4 separate regions of the Homo sapiens genome follow, and all the other regions are linked to region 2. Evidence: fine-mapped expression QTL. A gene starts in region 2. Each other region holds a variant in brackets. All regions are shown on one strand. Distances are between the middles of the regions.

Region 1 (5,000 bases), 190 kb before region 2:
GGTCTTCAGCAATAACTGTAATGATTTACTTTACATAAAAATGATCTAAAGCAGGCAGGGTGTGGCAGCTCATGCCTGTAATCCCAGCATTTTGGGAGGCTGAGGCAGAAGGATCACTTGAGGCTACGAATTCAAGATTACCCTGGGCAACACAGTGAGACCTTGTCTCTACAAAAACAAAAATAATAAGATTAGACAGGCACAGTGGCACACACTTGTAGTCTCAGCTACTTAGGAGGCTGAGGTGGGAAGATGGCTTAAGCCCAGGAATTCCAGGTTGCAGTGAGCTATGATGGCACCATTGCACCCCAGCCTGGGAGACAGAGTGGGACCCTGTCTCTTAAGAAAAGAAAAAAAAAATGGGCCAGGCGCGGTGTCTCATGCCTGCAATCCCAGAACTTTGGGAGGCTGAGGTGGGAGGATCACTTAAGGTCAGGAATTTGAGACCAGCCTGGCCAACATGGTGAGACCCCATCTCTACTAAAATACAAAAATTAGCCAGATATGGTGGTGCACACCTGTAATCCCAGCTACTCGGGAGGCTGAGGCAGGAGAATTGCTTGAACTCGGGAGGTGAAGGTTGCAGTGAGCCGAGATCGCGCCATTGTACTCCAGACTGGGCAACACGGTGAGACATTTTCTCAAAAAAAAAAAAAAAAAAAAAAAAGATGTAAAGTAAATGTGGAAACATGTTACATATTTTGCTGAGCTGAGTAGTTAGTTACTGTTTTTTACATTATTTTCTGTACATTAATTAACTGGAATTTTTGTTTAAAGACTACCATTCAGGACTCAACTCTGTCTTCCATGTAGCAAATTTTGAGAGCCTTGTCAAAATCAAAGCCATGTCTTAGCATTCATTTGTTGGTAGGAAAAAAAAAATCAGTCATTATATTTTAAAGCATATGGAGATATTTCCTACTTTTCTACTTCCCAGAGATACATTATATGCATAAATAATTGTACAGTCTTAAATGACAGGAAGGGTTTGAATGCACCAGGCATAATTCTCTAGTGTCCCTCATATACAGGGAGATATGACACTTTCATTCCCTGGCCAGTCACCATAAAATTCTGTCTTTACCAGACACTGAGAGGTGAAAACCCTGGTCTCAGGTTTTATACATAAAGCAAGGCAGTCAGAAAAGGCGGGAATGAGCCTGACAGATTTGGCGGCTGTCTGTGCAAAGACAAGACAGAAAGGTCCCATTTATCATGAAAATCTGCTAGTTTTCAACTTTGAAATAGTTGATAATTCATCTTCTTAGGCATGAGACATTGGGCAAGGGGTGGCTATTGCCACATTCATTTCTGCCTCAGCGATAATTTCTGGGGCAGTGTGGGCTGGCTAATGTTGTTGATGGGATGTGGGGGTGCAAGGGTGGCCAGTATGCCATGCCTGTGAAGGCTGATCACCCAGCAATGGAAATCTTTGAGAGGGGCCCTTTACTTCCCGAGGAGCCTCCTACAATTCTTGGGGACATGATGACTATCAACAGTGATGAAAATTTTGCGTAAATAAGATACAGGCCCACACTCCTAGAAGACAAAGAACCATGTGAACAAAACCACATAGGTGAACCATATTGGTCCCACCATAGAAAATTCTTCAATGAGGTGGCACAGGGGAGACAGCTCAGGCTATCAGGAGGGATGGAACAAGGTGGACACATGTTCTATTTCTTTTTCTTTTTAAAAAAATTAGGTATAACTTTCACAGAGTACACAAACACCACGTATGCCATTTGATCAACATCCAGACATGTGCACATCCTGCTGCCTAACGGAAGACAGAGCACACTTCTGGCATCCCTGAAGCCTTCCTCATGCTCTCGTCCAGTCAATGCTCTCCTTTCCCTCTCAACAAACTCTCCTGCTGTCTCTCACTGTAGCTAGTTGCCTGCTCATAAACCTGCTCTGAACATTCGTCTCTCCTACTCTCTCTCACTGTAGCTAGTTGCCTGCTTCATAAACTTGCTGTGAACATTCGTCTCTCCTGCTCTCTCTCACTGTAGCTTGTTTCCTGCTCATAAACCTGCTGTGAACATTCGTGCGCATGCCTTTGGTGGTCATAAAGTCCTCATTTCTCTAGGGTGGAAGCTACTCAAGAGTAGAACTGCTGGATCATGGGGTAGGCATATGTTTGGCTAACTGCCTAGGAGTTTTCCAATGTGGCTGGGCTAACTTCCATTTCTACCAGCACATATGAAAGTTCCAGATGCTCCACATCCTTACCAACACTTGGTATCATCACTCTTTTAAATTATTATTATGATTAGAGACAGGGTCTTACTCTGTCACCTGGGCTGGAATGCAGTGGTGCAATCATAGCTCACTGCAACCTTGAACTCCTTGGCTCAACTGATCCTCCTGTCTCAGCTTCCCGAGTGGCTAGGACTACAGGCACGTGCCACACTTGGCTAATTTTTAAATTGTTTTGTAGAGATGGGGTCTCGCTGTGTTGCCCAGGCTGATCTCAAACTGCTGAGCTCAAGCAGTCTTCCTGCCACAGCCTCCCAGAGTGCTAGGATTACAGGCACAAGCCATCGCACTTGGCCAAAGTCTTTTAAGTACTCAAAATAACCAATCTTTTCTTTTATGGTTAGTGCTTTTAATGTTTTGTTTAAGGGATCTTTGCCTAACCCAAGGTCATAAACATATTGTCTTATATTAAATCTTCCAGAAGCTTTATTGCCTTATTTTTTAGAGCCATAATCCATCTGGGATTAATTTTCTAAAAATGGAGATATAATTCAAAAACCATAAAATT[T/G]ACCTTTTGGAAGTGTACAATTCAGTGGTTTTTAAGGTCTATTCACAAGGTTGTACAGCTGTCAGCATTATCTGGTTTCAGAACACATTATCACCCCAGAAAGAAACCCTTACCCATTAGCAGCCATTCCCATCTCCCCCTCCCTCAGCCTTTGCCAACCATTAATCCACTTTCTGTTTTACGGATTTGCCTGTTCTGGACATTTCACAGAAGCAGAGTCACACAATAGGTGGCTTTTTGTGTCTGGCTTCTTTCACTTAACATGGTTTCAAGGCTCTTCCATGTTGTAGCATGAATGGGTACTTTATTCCTTTTAATGGCTGAGTAATATTCCCTTGTATGGATAGACCACATTTTGTTTATCATCAGCTGATGGACATTTGAGTTGTTTCTACTTTCTGGCTATTATAAATGGTGCTGCTATGAATATTTGTGTACAAGCTTTTGTGTGAACACATTTTTTTTTCAATTCTTTTTTTTTTTTTTTTTTTTGAGACAGAGTCTCACCCTGTCACCCAGCCTGAAGGTACAGTGGCGCAATCTTGGCTCACTGCAATCTCTGCCTCCCAGGTTCAAGTGATTCTCCTGCCTCAGCTTCCCGAGTAGCTGGAGTTACAGGTGCACACCACCATGTACAGCTAATTTTTGTATTTTTAGTAGAAGTGGGTTTTCACCATGTTGGCCAGGCTGGTCTCGAACTCCTGACCTCAGGTGATCTGCCTGCCTCAGCCTCCCAAAGTGCTGGGATTACAGGTGTGAACCATGCACCCTGCCTTTTTCAATTCATTTGGGTATATATCTAGGAGTATAATTGCTGGGCCCTGTGGTAACTCTATGTAAATGCCAAACTGTTTTCCAAAATGGCTGTACCGTTTTGCATTACCACCAGCAATGTATGAGTGTTCTAATTTCACCAAATCCTCTTTGGAATTGATTTTTATATATGGTGTGTGGCAAAGGTCAAGATTTTTTTCCGATATGGATATCCAATTACCCAGCACTATTTACTGAAAAGACTCTCTTTGAATGATGCCACTTTGGTCATAAATCAAGTATCTACACATGTGTGGGTCTATCCCTCAGCTCAGATCTGTTCTGTTGGCCTCTTTGTCCCTGGGGCCAGTGCCACACTGCTCTAATTACAATACTGCTGCAATAAGTCTTGATATCCTGAGCTTTAACTCCTCCAATTCTGTTCTAAGATTATTTTGGCTGTTGTCTTCTGTATTTTCATCTAACTTTTAAAATCAGCATATCAATTCACACACACACACTCACACACACACACACACACACACACCCCTGCTGGGATTCTACTGTATCTATAGATAAATTGATACAGTAATTAGGATTGAATTCTATCTATAGATTAATTTTGGAATAATTTGCCGCTTTTTAAATTGTTATTTATTTTTTATTGGGCAGCCTCCTCAGCCAGAGCAGGCTCAGAAAGACTCCATATGTATTTCTTTTTGAGTCTTTCTTATCAATGAACATGAGCTATCCTGTCATTTTAAAGGTCTTTATGGATTCTGTGTCTTAATATTGTACAGTTTTCTGTGTAGAAGACTTGTACATTTTTAATTTACTCCTAGGTATTTAATGTTTCCTGATGTTATTGTAAATGATTTCATTTAGGCCTGGGAGCCATGGCTCACGCCTGTAATCGCACCACTTTGGGAGGCTGAGGAGGGTGGAGTTTGAGACCAGCCTGGGAGACACAGGGAGGCAGACCCTATATCTACCAAAAAAAAAAAAAAAGAGCCAGCCAGGCATGGTAGTACATTCCTGTAGTCCCAGATACTTGAGAAGTTGAGGCAGGAGGATGGCTTGAGCCCACGAATTGAGACTGCAGTGAGCTATGATTGTGCCACTGTACTCACTCCAGCCTGGGCAATACAGCAAAAAAAAAAAGTATTTCACTCAAAAATGTTCATTTTTAAATTGTTTGCTGCTGGTATATAGAAATATATTTTAAAACACTTTCCTTATAGCCAGCAACCTTGCTAAATTTATATTCTTTTTTTTTTTTTTTTTTTGAGACGGAGTCTCTATCACTCAGGCTGGAGTGCAGTGGCGCAATCTCAGCTCACTGCAACCTCCCAGGTTCAAGCAGTTCTCCCAGGTTCAAGCAATTCTCCTGCCTCAGCCTCTCGAGCAGCTGGGATTACAGGCGCACCACACCTTGCCCAGCTAATTTTTGTATTTTTAGTAGAGACGGGGGTTTCAC
Region 2 (5,000 bases):
TGCTATACTATCACTCAAACTTATTCTTACAAAATAGGAAAAATGTCAGAATTCACCGCTATGTAATTCATCCATGTAATCAAAAACCACCTGTACCCCAAAAGCTGTTGAAACAAACAAAAGAAATAGCAAAAATGTGCTTTTCTGATACCTGTCAACCAAACAGTAACTGACTGCATTATTCTTTTCTTCCATGAGAGCCCACTAGTCCAAAGAGCAACAGAAATGTTATGTCTTTTTCTGGCAAAAGGAGGTAAGTGGTGGAGCCGTGTGGCCGGAACACTAAAAGCTTCCTGCCCAATGGTTTGGCGTTCTCAGGCTAGGACAAAGTTGGTTGTATAAGTAATCCAACCACTACTGGAAAAACACACATCGAAGCGTCAATGAATGCACCTGTAGTCCCAGCTACTCGGGAGGCTGAGGCAGGGTTATCACTTGAGCCCCAGGAGTTCGAGGCTGCAGTGAGCTACGATTATGCCACTGTACTCCAGCCTGGACAACAGAGCAAGACCCTATCTCAAAAAAAAAAAGTTTCCCAGGGGTCATTAAATAAGGCATAATGGAATTGTCCATTTCCTCAATCATAAATCCCTTTCTTAAATCATATAACTTCATGACAATTCCTTTAAGGGAGATTTTCTCCGTTTATCAGGAGCAATACCCTGCAGTATTAGAAATCACTATTTCTGACCGGGTGCAGTGGCTCACACCTGTAATCCCAGCACTTTGGGAGGCCGAGGCGGGCGGATAGCCTGAGGTCAGGAGTTCAAGACCAGCCTGGCCAACATGGTGAAACCCGGTCTCTACTAAAAATACAAAAATTAGCTAGGCATGGTAGCGGTTGCCTGTAGTCCCAGCTACTCAGGAGGCTGAGGCAGGAGAATCACTTGAACCTGGAAGCGGAGGTTGCAGTGAGCCGAGATGGCACCCCTACACTCCAACCTGGGCGAAAGAGCGAGACTCCGTCTCAGAAAACAAAAAAAAAGAAAAAAAGAAAAGAAAAAAATCACTATTTCTAATATCATTAGCCTTAAAAACTCAATAAACTTGCAAAGGCAAGAGTTCCTGCAGGCAGGGCCGCGCGTGGTGGCTCACGCCTGTAATCCCAGCACTTTGGGAGGCCAAGGCGGGCGGGTTACTTGAGCTCAGGAGTTCGAGACCATCCTGGCCAAAACGGTGAAACCCCCGTCTTTACCCCAAAAAAAAAAAAAAATTAGCCGGGTGTGGTGGCGTGCGCCTGTAATCACAGCTACTCAGGAGGCTGAGACAGGAGAATCGCTTGAACTCGGGAGGCGGAGGTCGCAGTGAGCCGAGATCGTGCCGTTGCACTCCAGCCCGGGCGACAGAGCGAGAATCCGTCTCAAAAAAAAAAAAAAAAAAAAGTTCCTGAAGGGAAAAGAGGCCCCTTGGGAGTATTCTCCAACCTCACCCAAACTATTCAACGGTAGGAATTCTCAACCTTTTAAGAATGGTAACGATGTCATTTTTCAACACTTTCTCTCTTCTCTGCCGTCCGCTTCAGAAATTAAAGTCATTCCCTTCCCCCAGTTCCAAGCCACTCACGAGGTGCCAGCTTGCAAAACCGGGGCGTTGGCACGAGTCTGGTAAATGCATGAAGCCCCCACAGTCCCCAGAATCTGAGGATGGCACCCAAGGCCTGCATTCTCCTAGCGTCGTCCTCTCTAAGCGCACAATTCCTTTCCCCAAAACCACCAGAACCCCCAGCCCTCGCCAAAGACAATCAAAGCCTAGAAAGGGTTCTCTTTCCTTTCCTTCTGATTCAGAAACCGCTTCTCACCCGCACCACCTCCCCACCTCCACTTTCCCTTCTGCCGCGAGCCCCCGGCCCTCCGTCCACCCGCCGCGGCCTCCCCAGCGCCCGGAGCTGCCGTCTCCCCTCCCGCACTCCCGTTTCCCCTCCTGAGGGGCGGAACGCTTACCTGCTCGATGGCCAGCTGCACCTCGGGCGTGAGCTGCAGCACGGCTTCCAGCTCCTCCACGAACTCCAGTTCCTCCTCCTCCATCATTCCGCCACCCGGCCCCCTGCCGACCCCCGCCGCGAGCCCAACTCAGGCCTCCAGCCGCCACCCAGGCCCCAGCACAGCAACTCCCTCGCGGCAGCGACCTGGTGAGCCCGGCTCCGTCAGCCGCTCTGTCAGCCGCTCCGGCACTTCCGGCAGGCCAGGGCACTTCCGGGACCGGGGAACTGTGGGATCACGGCGGACTGAGACTGGCGGCGTTCCTGTCACGTCAGGTGTCTCCCGGGCAACGCAGTATCCCGGCGGCCCCGCGTGGCCTCAGCGCGTCCTTAGGATGGGCGGGGCCTCTTCCCTCCCCAAGGCGCGCCCCGCACTGAGGACCCCGAGGTTGGGGTAGGGTCTGGCCTCCAGCAGGACGCCCGGATGAAAGTCAGCCCTGCGGCGTCGCCAACCGCAGCCCACAGCCTCCGCGGGCAGCGCAGCGGCGACCTCTCAGCTCCCGGGGCCCCCTCGGTCAGTGGCAGCGGGTGTCCCCGGCCACGGGGGCGACGTGATCCCAGCTGGCGAGTGGCGATGTCGCCAAGGACATTCGTAGGACGGGACAGTGCCCACTCGATAGAAATTCCCCGTGCGCCGGGCTCTGCGCAGAAGCTTTTCGAGGTGACTGCAGCCTCCTTATGGGGAGAAACGTCTTTTTTTTTTTTTTTTTTTTTTTTGAGACGGAGTCTTACTTGTTGCCCAGGCTGGAGTGCAACGGCGCGATCTCGGCTCACTGCAACCCCGCCTGCTGGGTTCAAGCGATTCTCCTGTCTCAGCCTCCCGAGTAGCTGGGATTACAGGCGCCCGCCACCACGCCCAGCTAATTTTTGTATTTTTAGTGGAGACGAGGTTTCACCATGTTGGCCAGGCTGGTCTCGAACTCTTGACCTCGTGATCCGCCCGCCTCGGCCTCCCAAAGTGCTGGGATGACAGGCGTGAGCTACTGCGCCCGGCCAGAAACGTTTTTTTAAAGCCAGATGACGCAGCGCCCTGGAGCTGGGGAGACGTTTACTGAGGTTGAATATCCGGGATCTAAGTCCTGAATAGTCCACCATTGATAAGTTGTGTGACTTGGAACAAATTACTACCCCGCGTCGATGTGGAGAGGATTAAACATTAACAGCGCGATGTAAATTCAAGCTGGTAATACAGGAAATAGTGAGGTGCCCAGCCCTTACCCCCACAAAGGAACAAATAAGCCAGATCACCGATCACCCTGTGAAACCACCTTTCCTGCAGACACTGAAAAGAAGGAGGGAATTGCAGCCCAAGGAGGACCCGCTCCACCAGGTGAACCGGGAAACTCCAGGAGGGAAACGCGTTGGCCCCACTGAACTTTTTTTTGTTGTTGTTATCAGAGTTGCTCAAAGTAAAAAATAGGAGCAGTATGATTTTTTCTTTTATTTTTAATTGACAAATAATAATTATATAAACAATGTAATTTCTAACAACAAAGGAATGCTAAAAAATATACATTAAAAAAAGAAAAAAAAGACAAAATAAAATATACATTGAACCTGGTGCAGTGGCACAGGCCTGCAGCCCCAGCTACTCAGGAGGCTGAGGCAGGGAATTATTGACTTTCTGAGATTGAATATCAGGGGTCTAGATCTCATCCCACCACTGAGGATCGCTTGAGCCCAGGAGTTTGAGGCTGCAGTGAGGAATGATTCCTTTGCGCCACTGCACTCCAGCCTGGGCCACAAAGGGAGACTCTGTCTCTTAAGTAAACATAGAATATTATTGATTCATAAAATCATGATTTTGAAAATTAATGACATGAAAAATATGCACAATATATTTCAGAAAGCAAAATGTATAATTTCATTTAAAAAATGCATAGCATGGTCCCAGCTTTGTGTGTATTCTGTGCCAATAAAGCTCACAGCAAGGAAATATTACTTTTCTGCACGTGATGAATGTACATCCTTTGTACATTTTCCCAAATGTCTACAATGAGCCTGTAGTTCTCTCATGCTCAGAAAATATGAATGCCTTTTTCTAAAAGGAAAAGGTAATTATAGCTACTTATTTTGGACTTTTTTTTTCCTTTAAAAAATTAAGATATTTACATACAGTAAAATTTACTCTTGCAATTTATGATGCAGTGAGTTTTGATAAATGTGTATAAACGACTGGGCATGGTGACTCACGCCTATAATCCCAGCACGTGGGGAGGCCGAGGCTGCCAGATCACTTGAGGTCAGGGGTTCGAGACCAGCCTGGCCAACATGGTAAAACCCGTCTCTATCTACTAAAAATACAAAACGTAGCTGGCCGTGGTGGTGCACAGAATCACTTGAACCCGAGAGGTGGAGGTTGCAGTGAGCCAAGATTGCACCATTGCACTCCAGCCTGGGTGACAGAGCAAGACTCCATCTCAAAACAAACAAACAAATAATAAGAAAACAATAATAAAACAAAATAAATAAATGTATATAACCATGTAACTACTACCACAATCTAGTTATAGGACAATTTCATTCCCCCAAATTCCCTCTTGCCTCACCCCATCCACTGGCAACCACTGACTTGATTTCTGTCCCTATAGTTTTTGTTTTTGTTTTTGTTTTTTTGAGACGGAGTCTCGCTCTATCACCCAGGCTGGAGTGCAGTGGTGCAATCTCAGCTCACTGCAACCTCCGCCTCCCGGGTTCAAGCGATTCTCCTGCCTCAGCCTCCTGAGTAGCTGGGATGACAGGCACGTGCCACCACACCTGGCTAATTTTTGTATTTTTAGTAGAGACAGGGTTTCATCATGTTGCCCAGGATGGTCTCAAACTCCTGACCTCAGGTGATCTGCCAGCATCAGGCTCCCAAAGTGCTGGGGTTACAGGCATGAGCCACCACGCCTGGCCTGTCCCTATAGTTTTGATATTTCCAGAATATCATATAGATGGAATCATACAGTATGACACCTTTTCAGTCTGGCTTCTTTCATCTGTCATAAAGTATCTAAAATTCATCCATGTTGTTGCATGT
Region 3 (5,000 bases), 160 kb before region 2:
GCAACCAAACATTATGTATCTTGATGACAGACGTACAAAACATCATTATGATGTAGTTTTCTGTAAAAAAGAATCTGAATCAGCTCAGGCTTCTACATCTAACTACCAATTTATGGGAAATACGAGACAAAGTAAAATGTCCATTAATACTCGTGGGTGCAATCAGGAAAATCCAAAACTTGGGAAAATCTACAGGGCAAACAACACAGTTTCTTTAAGAAAAGATTGCAGAGGGGGCAAAGGGAAATGGAAGAAGAAACCAGAGACTTAATAATCTGAGCAGGCTGGACCCAGTGGCTCACCCGGTAATCCCAACTCTTTGGGGGCTGAGGCAAGAAGATCACTTGAGCCCAGGAGCTCAAGACCAGCCTGAGCAACACAGTGAGACCCTATCTCTACAAAAAATAAAAAAATACTGGCCAGGCATGGTGGCAGGTGCCTGAAGTCCCAGTGTAGTCCCAGCCACTTGGGAGGCTGAGGGTAGGATCGCTTTCGTTCCAGGTTTCAGTGAGCTGTGATCAAACCACCGCACTCCAGCCTGGGCAACAGATTGAGACCCCATATTAAACAAAAAGAATCTGAGCAACAAGGAATTGGAAAATAAAATTTAAAAGCAACACCAATAATACATCATTATTGGTTCATTAATTGTAACAAATATTTCATATCAATGTTAATAATATGGGAAACTGGGTAAGTGGTATATGGGAACCATACAAACGATCTTTGCAATTTTTCTGTAAATGTAAAAGTATCCTTAAAAGTGTAGTTTATGTTTTTTAAAAACTATTTACAATAGCAATTCATAACATCGTTCTGTGGTTTGATTGTGTTCTCCAAAGTTTATGGGTTATAAGCTTAATCCCTGAAGCCACAGTGTTGAGAGGTATGAGGTCATGAGGGCTCTGGCATCATCATGGGTTAATGCCATTATCTCAGGAGTGGGCTCTTTTATTCCTTCAAGAGATCTTTATTAAGCACTTATTACGTACCAGGCATTGTATTTGGTGCTAATGAACAGAGGTGAACAAAGTAGACTTTCTGGCATGTAACTTAAAACTAATGGGGGCGCCAGATAATAAGGAAGTAAGCCAGCCGAGACGTAACTTCGGTTTTGTGGTGTTAGGAAATAAATTTGGCAGTGCTGGAATAAGGGAGCTACCTACTGAAGGGGGGTGGCCAGGAGGGCCTCTCTGCTGAAGGGGGGTGGCCAGGAGGGGCTCTCTGAGGAGGTGATACTGAAGCGGGGACCTGAGGCTTGGGGAATGAGACTGCCAAGTGAGAAGCCACCACACCCGGCTAATTTTTGTATTCTTTTAGTAGAGACGGGGTTTTGCCATGTTGACGAGACTGGTCTTAAACTCCTGACCTCAAGTGATCCACCCTCCTCAGCCTCCCAAAGTGCTGGGATTATAGGCATGAGCCACCGCGCCCCCACTCTTCTGGAAGCTCTGAGGAAAAAACTATTTACACCTCTCTTCTAGCTTTGGGTGTTTGCTGGCAATCCTTGATGTTCCTTGGCTCATAGAAGTCTGACTCCAGCCTCTGCCTCCTTCTCACGGCCTTCTTCCCTGTATCTCTGTGTGTTCAATCTCTCTCTCCTTTCTAAGGACAACAGTCATTAGATAAGGCCCCCCACCAATCCTAAATCCAGGACCATCTCATCTTGAGATACTTAATTACATTTACCAAGATAAAGTCACATTTACATGTCCCAAGGCCTAGGACTTGGACATATTTTGGGGTTGGGGGGACACTTCAACCCACTATATCTCCCTGGGTCCTCTTGAGATGACACTAATAGTCTTTGATATTTTTCTTGCTTTTTGTGTAACATGATGTTCTGATTCATCTTGTAGATTTCCTGCCCTTGACCTGGAATTAGTCATTTCTCCAGGAATCTCTGGTTTCTTTTAGTGGAAAATTGTATTTAGAGATCACAATAAAGGTGCTAAGAATGTATTACTTTTGTAATCAATAAAAACAATTTTCACTAAATAAAAAATAATTGGCCACTTGTATCATCAGTCATCAAAATGGTCTTCAACTTATTTCTAGAACTTCTAAGAGTCTGTTCTAGAAAACTAATGCAAAACATTTAAGATGCTATATTCAGAAAGACATTCTTTGTAAGGATTATCTTTTTTTTTTTTTTTTTTTTTAGAGACAGGGTCTCACTCTGTCACCCAGGCTGGAGTGCAGTGGTGTGATCATAGCTCACTGCAGCTTTGACCTCCCAGGCTCAAGCGATCCTCCAACCTCAGCTTCCCAAGTAGCTGAGACCACAGGCATGTACCACCACACTCAACTAACTTTTAAATTTTTTGTAAAGACCAGGTCTCACTATGTTACCCAGGCTGGTCTTGGACTATTGGCCTCAAGCGATCCTTCCACCTTGGCTTCCCAATATGCTAGGATTACAGGCGTGAGCCACTGTACCCTGCCAGGATTATCTATAAAAGCAAAATTTTGGCTGGGCATGGTGGCTCACGCCTATAATCCCAGCACTTTGGAAGGCCAAGGTGAGTGGATCACGAGGTCAGGAGAT[T/C]GAGACCATCCTGGCTAACACAGTGAAACCCCGTCTCTACTAAAAATACAAAAAATTAGCTGTGTGTGGTAGCGGGTGCCTGTAGTCCCAGCTACTCACAGTGGCTCACGTCTGTAATCCCAGCACTTTGGGAGGCCAAGACGGGCAGATCACAAGATCAGGAGATCGAGACTATCCTGGCTAACACAGTGAAACCCGGCCTCTACTAAAAATAAAAAAAAATTAGCCAGGCGTGGTGATGGGAACCCGTAGTCCCAGCTACTCGCGAGGCTGAGGCAGGAGAATGGCGAGAACCCGGCAGGGGGAGCTTGCAGTGAGCCGAGATCGTGCCACTGCACTCCAGCCTGGGTGACAGAGAGAGACTCTGTTTCAAAAAAAAAGCAAAATTTGAAGCACTATAAACAACGATCAGGGATGCTTGCTAAATAAGTTATGGTACAAGGCCGGGCACAGGGGCTCACACCTGTAATCCCAGCACTTTGGGAGGCCAAGGCAGGTGGATCACAAGGTCAAGAGTTGGAGATCAGCCTGGCCAAGATGGTGAAACCCCATCTCTACTAAAAAAAAAAAAAAAATACAAAAATTAGCCGGGGATGGTGATGGGCATCTATAATCCCAGCTACTCAGGAGGCTGAGGCAGAAGAATTGCTTGAACCTGGGAGGTGGAGGCTGCAATGAGCCAAGATCATGGCCACTGCACTCCAGCCTGGAAGACAGAGCAAGACTCTGTCTCAAAATAAATAAATAAATAAATAATTTATGGTATAGTCCCTTAAAGAGAAATATTATGTGGCCATAAACAATGATAGTAATAATGACCCTGTAATGATAGTTATGATTATTACTATCATTATAATGACAGGAGAAATGCTAATGCTATGTATGACACTAACAATAAAAGGATATAACAGTGAATTAAGATTGTAACATTCAAAACTATGTCTATGAATAACAATTGAAAAAATACCCCAAATTGCTAATATGATTATTTGAGGATGATGGGATTAAAAGGGATCTTTATTTTTTTAAATACTACGGTTATTTTACCTTTAAAATAGCATATTTACATGTATCGTATTTCTTTCTGTGCACACCCAAAATAGTTAAACAGTGTTTCTTCATGAAAGAACTCTGGAACCCCTGCCTTGGAGGTCCTTACAGATAGTGCCATCTTACCTGGGGAGTGGCCTGGGGCTAAACGGACTGCTCTGTGGCTCCAAGGCCAAACCCTGGAAGGTCATGACCTTCGCAACTCAACATGACCAGGTCCCCAGGCAGAGTGTGCTGCTGCCTCTGCCTCTGGCTGGCTTATGTGCCACTGAGGGGCCTTGGTAGACACACTTCCTATTTGACCTGCTATATTGCTGCCCTGGCACACAGGAGCTCCAAGCTGGGCTGTCTGAACTATCATTTATGACTGTCTTCTTGTGGTCTAGGCATCTGTAAATTATAAATACAAAGTGGGTAGAAGAGCAGAACCTTTCCAAATTACTTTCTTTCTCTTGGCCTCAGGGGAATCCCAGACCAAGTGTGAAAAGGACTTCTAATTCCATGTTTAAGGCTGAATCAAAGGTTATTCTGGGTCTTCCTTCTGCTCCATCAGTTGCTGAACTATGGCCATGTGGGGGCCTCCAGCAGAGGCATCACCCTTTCCTGTCCCCCAGTTCCTAAACGTCAGCATCCCAAACAATGGCTATTTGTTGAGGCAGATTGAAAATGCCATGTAAATTTCAGAAGACACATAAAAGCCCAAAGGATTCTGCTTAACTTAGTAACACTTCTGAGCATGGAATAACTGGCTGTGACTCATCATCACCAAAGGCTGGGTCCTAGCACAGACAAGCTTGTTACTGCTTTTCTCATATGGGTTGGAGTGCTACTGACCTACTTTTAACAGGTCATGCCCTTTGAGGAGCTTACACAACTCCAGGGAGGTGACCAGTCATACTTTCTTGCCCAGTCTTCTTTTAACAAGGCCTTTCTGTAAGACAGCTGCCTGGGCAGCCTTATGGCTGGACACTGAGCTTTCCTCTGTGGCAGGCCAACTGGTCTGACCCAAGGTTGTCTGTGGCCATGTTAGGACGTATATTCTTACTCGCCGAGCGACGCAGCCCAGAGGGTTCAGGAAAAGGAGGTGGTGAGTGGGCAGCCAGGATGGCTCACCTGCTGGGTGGTGGCCAGACAGTACTCTGCCGTGCTCAGGATGTTACAGATGAGGCAGAGCTCCTCCAGAGTGAACTTGGCTACTTCTGAGCCCTCCTTTTCCTTGAGGAGGCTGCTGATAGTCAGTCCTCCACTGCTGGTTGTGGTTCTGAAGAAAAGGAACAGGAACAAGTCAGCATGGAATTTCTAATTTGCTTCCTGAACTGGAAACTACATTATTTTAAGATACAGAAAAGGGGGAAGTAAAGGCTGGACATGGCCCAAATCAATTCACATACAATGAGTCCTT
Region 4 (5,261 bases), 210 kb before region 2:
GGTTCAAGCGATCCTCCCGTCTCAGCCTCCCGAGTAGCTGGGACTACAGGAGCGCACCACCACACCCGGATAATTTTTTGTAGAGATGGGGTTTCACCGTGTTGCCCAGGTCACTCTCAAACTCCTGGGCTCAAGTGATCTGCCTGACTTGGTCTTCCAAAGTCCTGGGATTATAGGTGTGAGCCACCATGCCCAGCCTTAATCATTTTAAGTGGAAATGTAACCATTTTAGGATAATGTCCTACAAAAATGTGAGTACAAGCAAGCAAAGACATTTGCAGAAAGATTTTCACAGATGATGTGAGTCTAATGCCAAAAAACTAAACACAGCCTTTTGGCTATATTGCTAGAAGACTGGCTGTCTCAGTGTATTCACGCTGCTACAATAAAATGCCACGGACTAATTGATAAATAGTAGATCGTTGTTCCTTACAGCTCTGGAGGCCAGGACGTCGAAGATCAGGTGCTGACGGACTCCGTGCCCAGTGAGGGCTGCTCTTTGCTTCCAAGATGGCGCCATGTTGCTTGTTACATGGCAGAAGGCAGAAAGTCACAGGGTGTCACACAGCTCCCCTGCACCTCTTTATAAGGTCATAATCCCATTCTTGAGGCCCCTTCTTCATGATTTAACCACCTCCTAAGGGCCCCACATCTTAATACTATCACATCGGGGATTCACTTTCAACATAAGAATTTTGGAGGGACATATACATTCAAACCATAGCACTGATGACATAAATGATGGGACCGGGTGAAGTGGCTCACGCCTGTAATCCCAGCACTTTGGGAGGCCAAGGAGGGCAGATCACCTGAGGTCAGGAGTTTGAGACCAGCCTGGCCAGCATGGCGAAACCCTGTCTCTACTAAAAAATACAAAAATTAGCCAGGCGTGGTGGCGGGCGCCTGTAATCCCGGCTACTCAAGAGGCTGAGGCAGGAGAATCGCTTGAACCTGGCAGAAGGAGGTTGCAGTGAGCCGAGATCGCACCATTGCACTCCAGCAGCCTGAGGACAGGGCGAGGCTCCGTCTCAAAAAAAAGAAAAAAAATGATGGCATAGCTGAGCTATAAAGCACCAAGCAGCCATTAAAAATAATGAGTAGATCTATACATGGCAAGGGAAAAGTCCAAGATGTACAGTCAGCCTTCTGCATCTGCCAGTTCTGCAGCTACAGATTCAACCAACTCTGGAATGAAAATACAGAATTCTCAGGATGCTGAGAAGTCAAGACCCAAATTTTTGTGCCCACAGGTTCCACAGGGCTGACTCGGGGCCTGGGACCTGAGCATCCAGGATTTTGTTATCTGGCAGGTGGGGGGGCCTGCTTCATGTTAATTTCTTTTTTTTTTTTTTCCTTTGACAAAGTATCTCCTTTTTCCCACATACAGATACAGAGAAATCTTCACAGGAGAGTAGGACTTCTGATATATTTCCATGTAGTGGTTTTTTTTTTGTTGTTGTTTTTTGAGACAGTCTCACTCTGGCTGGAGTGAACTGGCATGATCTCAGCTCACTGAAAGCTCCACCTCCCGGGTTCAAGTGATTCTCCTGCCTCAGCCCCCCGAGTAGCTGGGATTACAGGCATGTGCCACCAAAACTGGCTAATTTTTTTTTTTTTCCCCTGAGATGGCGTCTCGCCTATTGCCCAGGCTGGAGTGCAATGGCGCGATCTTGGCTCATTGCAACCTCCGCCTCCCAGACTCAAATGATTCTCCTGCCTCAGCCTCCCAAGCAGCTGGGATTACAGGTGTGCGCCATGATGCCTGGCTAATTTTTTGTTATCTTTAGTAGGGATGGGCTTTCACCATGTTGGCCAGGCTGGTCTTGTACTCCTGACCTCGTGATCCGCCCGCCTCGGCCTCCCAAAGTGCTGGGATGACAGGCGTGAGCCACCGCGCCCGGCCCCACTGTACTTTAAAAATGAGCATTGCTACTGCAATATTATAGGGTAATAGCAGCACAGGCCACACTGAGCCATCAGTGTCGTCGGTTTTGAGAAGAGACCCGCTGGAGCCAGGCTCTTTAGCTCCTTCTGAGAAACCCTACGGAAAGAGGCGTGGAGCAGGCCCAGCCGGGAGCCCAGGGAGAGTGGACTCCGCACACCGAGACCCGCCTGAGCAGCAGAGAATGGCTTCCGGCTTCCGCACACCGAGACCCGCCGGTGCAGGGGTGAATGGCTTCCGGCTTCCGCACACCGAGACCCGCCGGTGCAGGGGTGAATGGCTTCCGGCTTCCGCACACCGAGACCCACCTGAGCAGCAGAGAATGGCTTCCGGCTTCCGCACACCGAGACCCGCCTGAGCAGCAGAGAATGGCTTCCGGCTTCCGCACACCGAGACCCGCCGGTGCGGGCTTCCTGGGACTTCCATTCTTGATTTGTTGGGGCAAGATTTTCTTTTGATTTCTGTGACTGTTCTCTGTGTAATCATTAAGAAAAAAATGTTATGATAAACTAACCATATTGGCTGACAGCCAGAGTGGTTAGGGGTGAGTAAGGTGTTGAGATTGAGGCCCTAGGAAAGGAAGGTGGAGCCATTTAGAAATGGGGAATTCAGCCGGGTGCGGTGGCTCATGCCTGTAATCCCCACACATTGGGAGGCCGAGGCGGGAGGCTCACTTGAGCCCAAGAGTTTGAGACAAGACTGGGCAATAGAATAAGACCCTGTCT[CAAAAAAA/C]AAAAAAAAAAAAAAAAAAAGAGAGAGAGACAAGAAAAGAAAAAAAGAAAAATGGGGGATTCAGGAAGGAAGCTGAGCTTACCTCGAGATGGTGCATATAAGCTAATGATGGGAGTTGGCTAGAAGACAGGAACTGAAAATTGGGGGGAGCTCAGGTGTAGCTGGTGTTTGCACCTGTGATGGCAGGTAAGTCCTCAGGAGCCTGGCATGAAAACAGGGGGCCTAAGACCTCGAGGCCTGGCCGCTGTCAAGGCTCAGAAGGAGAGGAGAGCTGGGGAAGGAGACTAAGAAGTCCCAGAGCCAGTAAAGCAGTTAAGGGAGAATTCCGGAGAGAGGAGGACTCACAGAGTTAAGGGAGAATTCCGGGGAGAGGGGGACTCACACAGTTAAAGGAGTATTCCGGGGAGGAGGACTCAGAGTTAAGGGAGGATTCCGGGGAGAGGGGGACTCACACAGTTAAAGGAGTATTCCAGGGAGGAGGACTCAGAGTTAAGGGAGAATTCCGGGGAGAGGGGGACTCACACAGTTAAAGGAGTATTCCGGGGAGGAGGACTCAGAGTTAAGGGAGGATTCCAGGGAGAGGGGGACTCACACAGTTAAAGGAGGATTCCAGGGAGAGGGGACTCACACACAGATGCCCCTCCACAGATGATGGGGTTACGTCCCAATAAACCCACTGTAAGTTACATTGTTAAGTCAAAAATGCATTTAATACACCTAACCTCCCCAATGTCATAGCTTAGCCTAGCCTACCTTAAACGTGCTCAGAACAGTTACATTATCCTGCAGTTGGGCAGGACAGATGTGAGCCGGGCTAGAAGGGCATCGGTGACCTTCGAGAGAAGGGTCAGGACAGATGTGAGCCAGACGAAGAACCTCAGTGACCTTCGAGAGAAGGAAATGTCAGGACAGATGTGAGCTGGGCTAGAAGGGCATCGGTAACCTTTGAGAGAAGGAAGGGTCAGGACACATGTGAGCCAGATTAGAATAACATCGGTGACCTTCGAGAGAAGGAAGGGTCAGGACAGATGTGAGCCAGATTAGAATAACATCGGTGACCTTCGAGAGAAGGGTCAAGACAGATGTGAGTCAGGCTAGAAGGGCATCGGTGACCTTCCAGAGAAGGGTCAAGACAGATGTGAGTCAGGCTAGAAGGGCATCGGTGACCTTCCAGAGAAGGGTCAAGACAGATGTGAGTCAGGCTAGAAGGGCATCGGTGACCTTCCAGAGAAGGGTCAAGACAGATGTGAGTCAGGCTAGAAGGGCATCGGTGACCTTCCAGAGAAGGGTCAAGACAGATGTGAGTCAGGCTAGAAGGGCATCGGTGACCTTTGAGAGCAGGGTCAGGACAGTGGTTGAGATGGAAGCTGACTTTCTAGAAGGGCATCGGTGACCTTGGAGAGCAGGGTCAGGACAGTGGTTGAGATGGAAGCTGACTTTGTAGAAGAGCATTGGTGACCTTCGAGAGCAGGGTCAGGACAGCGGTTGAGATGGAAGCTGACTTTCTAGAAGAGCACCGGTGACCCTCGAGAGCAGGGTCAGGACAGTGGTTGAGATGGAAGCTGACTTTCTAGAAGAGCACCGGTGACCTTCGAGATCAGGGTCAGGACAGCGGTTGAGATGGAAGCTGACTTTGTAGAAGAGCATTGATGACCTTCGAGATCAGGGTCAGGGCAGTGGTTGAGATGGAAGCTGACTTTCTAGAAGAGCACCGGTGACCCTCGAGAGCAAGGTCAGGACAGCGGTTGAGATGGAAGCTGACTTTGTAGAAGAGCATTGGTGACCTTCGAGATCAGGGTCAGGACAGCGGTTGAGATGGAAGCTGACTTTCTAGAAGAGCACCGGTGACCCTCGAGAGCGGGGTCAGGACAGTGGTTGAGATGGAAGCTGACTTTGTAGAAGAGCATTGGTGACCTTCGAGATCAGGGTCAGGACAGCGGTTGAGATAGAAGCTGACTTTCTAGAAGAGCATTGGTGACCTTCGAGAGCAGGGTCAGGACAGCGGTTGAGATGGAAGCTGACTTTCTAGAAGAGCACCGGTGACCCTCGAGAGCGGGGTCAGGACAGTGGTTGAGATGGAAGCTGACTTTGTAGAAGAGCATTGGTGACCTTCGAGATCAGGGTCAGGACAGCGGTTGAGATGGAAGCTGACTTTCTAGAAGAGCATTGGTGACCTTCGAGAGCAGGGTCAGGACAGCGGTTGAGATGGAAGCTGACTTTCTAGAAGAGCACCGGTGACCCTCAAGAGCGGGGTCAGGACAGTGGTTGAGATGGAAGCTGACTTTGTAGAAGAGCATTGGTGACCTTCAAGATCAGGGTCAGGACAGCGGTTGAGATGGAAGCTGACTTTCTAGAAGAGCACCGGTGACCCTCAAGAGCGGGGTCAGGACAGTGGTTGAGATGGAAGCTGACTTTGTAGAAGAGCATTGGTGACCTTCGAGATCAGGGTCAGGACAGCGGTTGAGATGGAAGCTGACTTTCTAGAAGAGCATTGGTGACCTTCGAGAGCAGGGTCAGGACAGCGGTTGAGATGGAAGCTGACTTTCTAGAAGAGCATTGGTGACCTTCGAGAGCAGGGTCAGGACGG

Direction of the effects. Alleles are on the strand shown, and positions count from the first base shown. SD is a standard deviation of normalised expression in the study named. Not every link is listed here.
As copies of C replace CAAAAAAA in region 4, the expression in B cells of the gene that starts at base 2,157 in region 2 goes down (large effect, 0.86 SD a copy in Schmiedel 2018).

What was found.
Region 1: its variant is fine-mapped to the expression of VPS53 in whole blood (TOPMed, PIP above 0.99).
Region 3: its variant is fine-mapped to the expression of VPS53 in whole blood (TOPMed, PIP 0.95).
Region 4: its variant is fine-mapped to the expression of VPS53 in B cells (Schmiedel 2018, PIP 0.94).

What each region holds. Positions count from the first base shown.
Region 1 is chr17:525,354-530,353 of GRCh38, forward strand. All of the region lies in intron 19 of VPS53 (VPS53 subunit of GARP complex), which reads right to left. All of the region lies in intron 1 of VPS53-AS1 (VPS53 antisense RNA 1), which reads left to right. Among named protein-coding and RNA genes, the nearest start is that of VPS53-AS1, 5.1 kb to the left of the region's middle. The variant T/G (reference allele first, on the strand shown) is at 2,771.
Region 2 is chr17:712,683-717,682 of GRCh38, forward strand. VPS53 (VPS53 subunit of GARP complex) reads right to left here and starts at 2,157. Exons shown (of 22, transcript NM_001128159.3): 1 at 1,941-2,157. The coding sequence starts at 2,027. RefSeq lists an enhancer at 2,629-2,698.
Region 3 is chr17:555,715-560,714 of GRCh38, forward strand. VPS53 (VPS53 subunit of GARP complex) reads right to left here. Exons shown (of 22, transcript NM_001128159.3): 15 at 4,712-4,859. It overlaps LOC124903891 (a long non-coding RNA gene), which reads left to right and starts at 170. Exons shown (of 2, transcript XR_007065571.1): 1 at 170-305; 2 at 502-626. RefSeq lists an enhancer at 4,287-5,000. The variant T/C (reference allele first, on the strand shown) is at 2,549.
Region 4 is chr17:500,914-506,174 of GRCh38, forward strand. No RefSeq gene overlaps it. Among named protein-coding and RNA genes, the nearest start is that of VPS53-AS1, 19 kb to the right of the region's middle. The variant CAAAAAAA/C (reference allele first, on the strand shown) is at 2,668.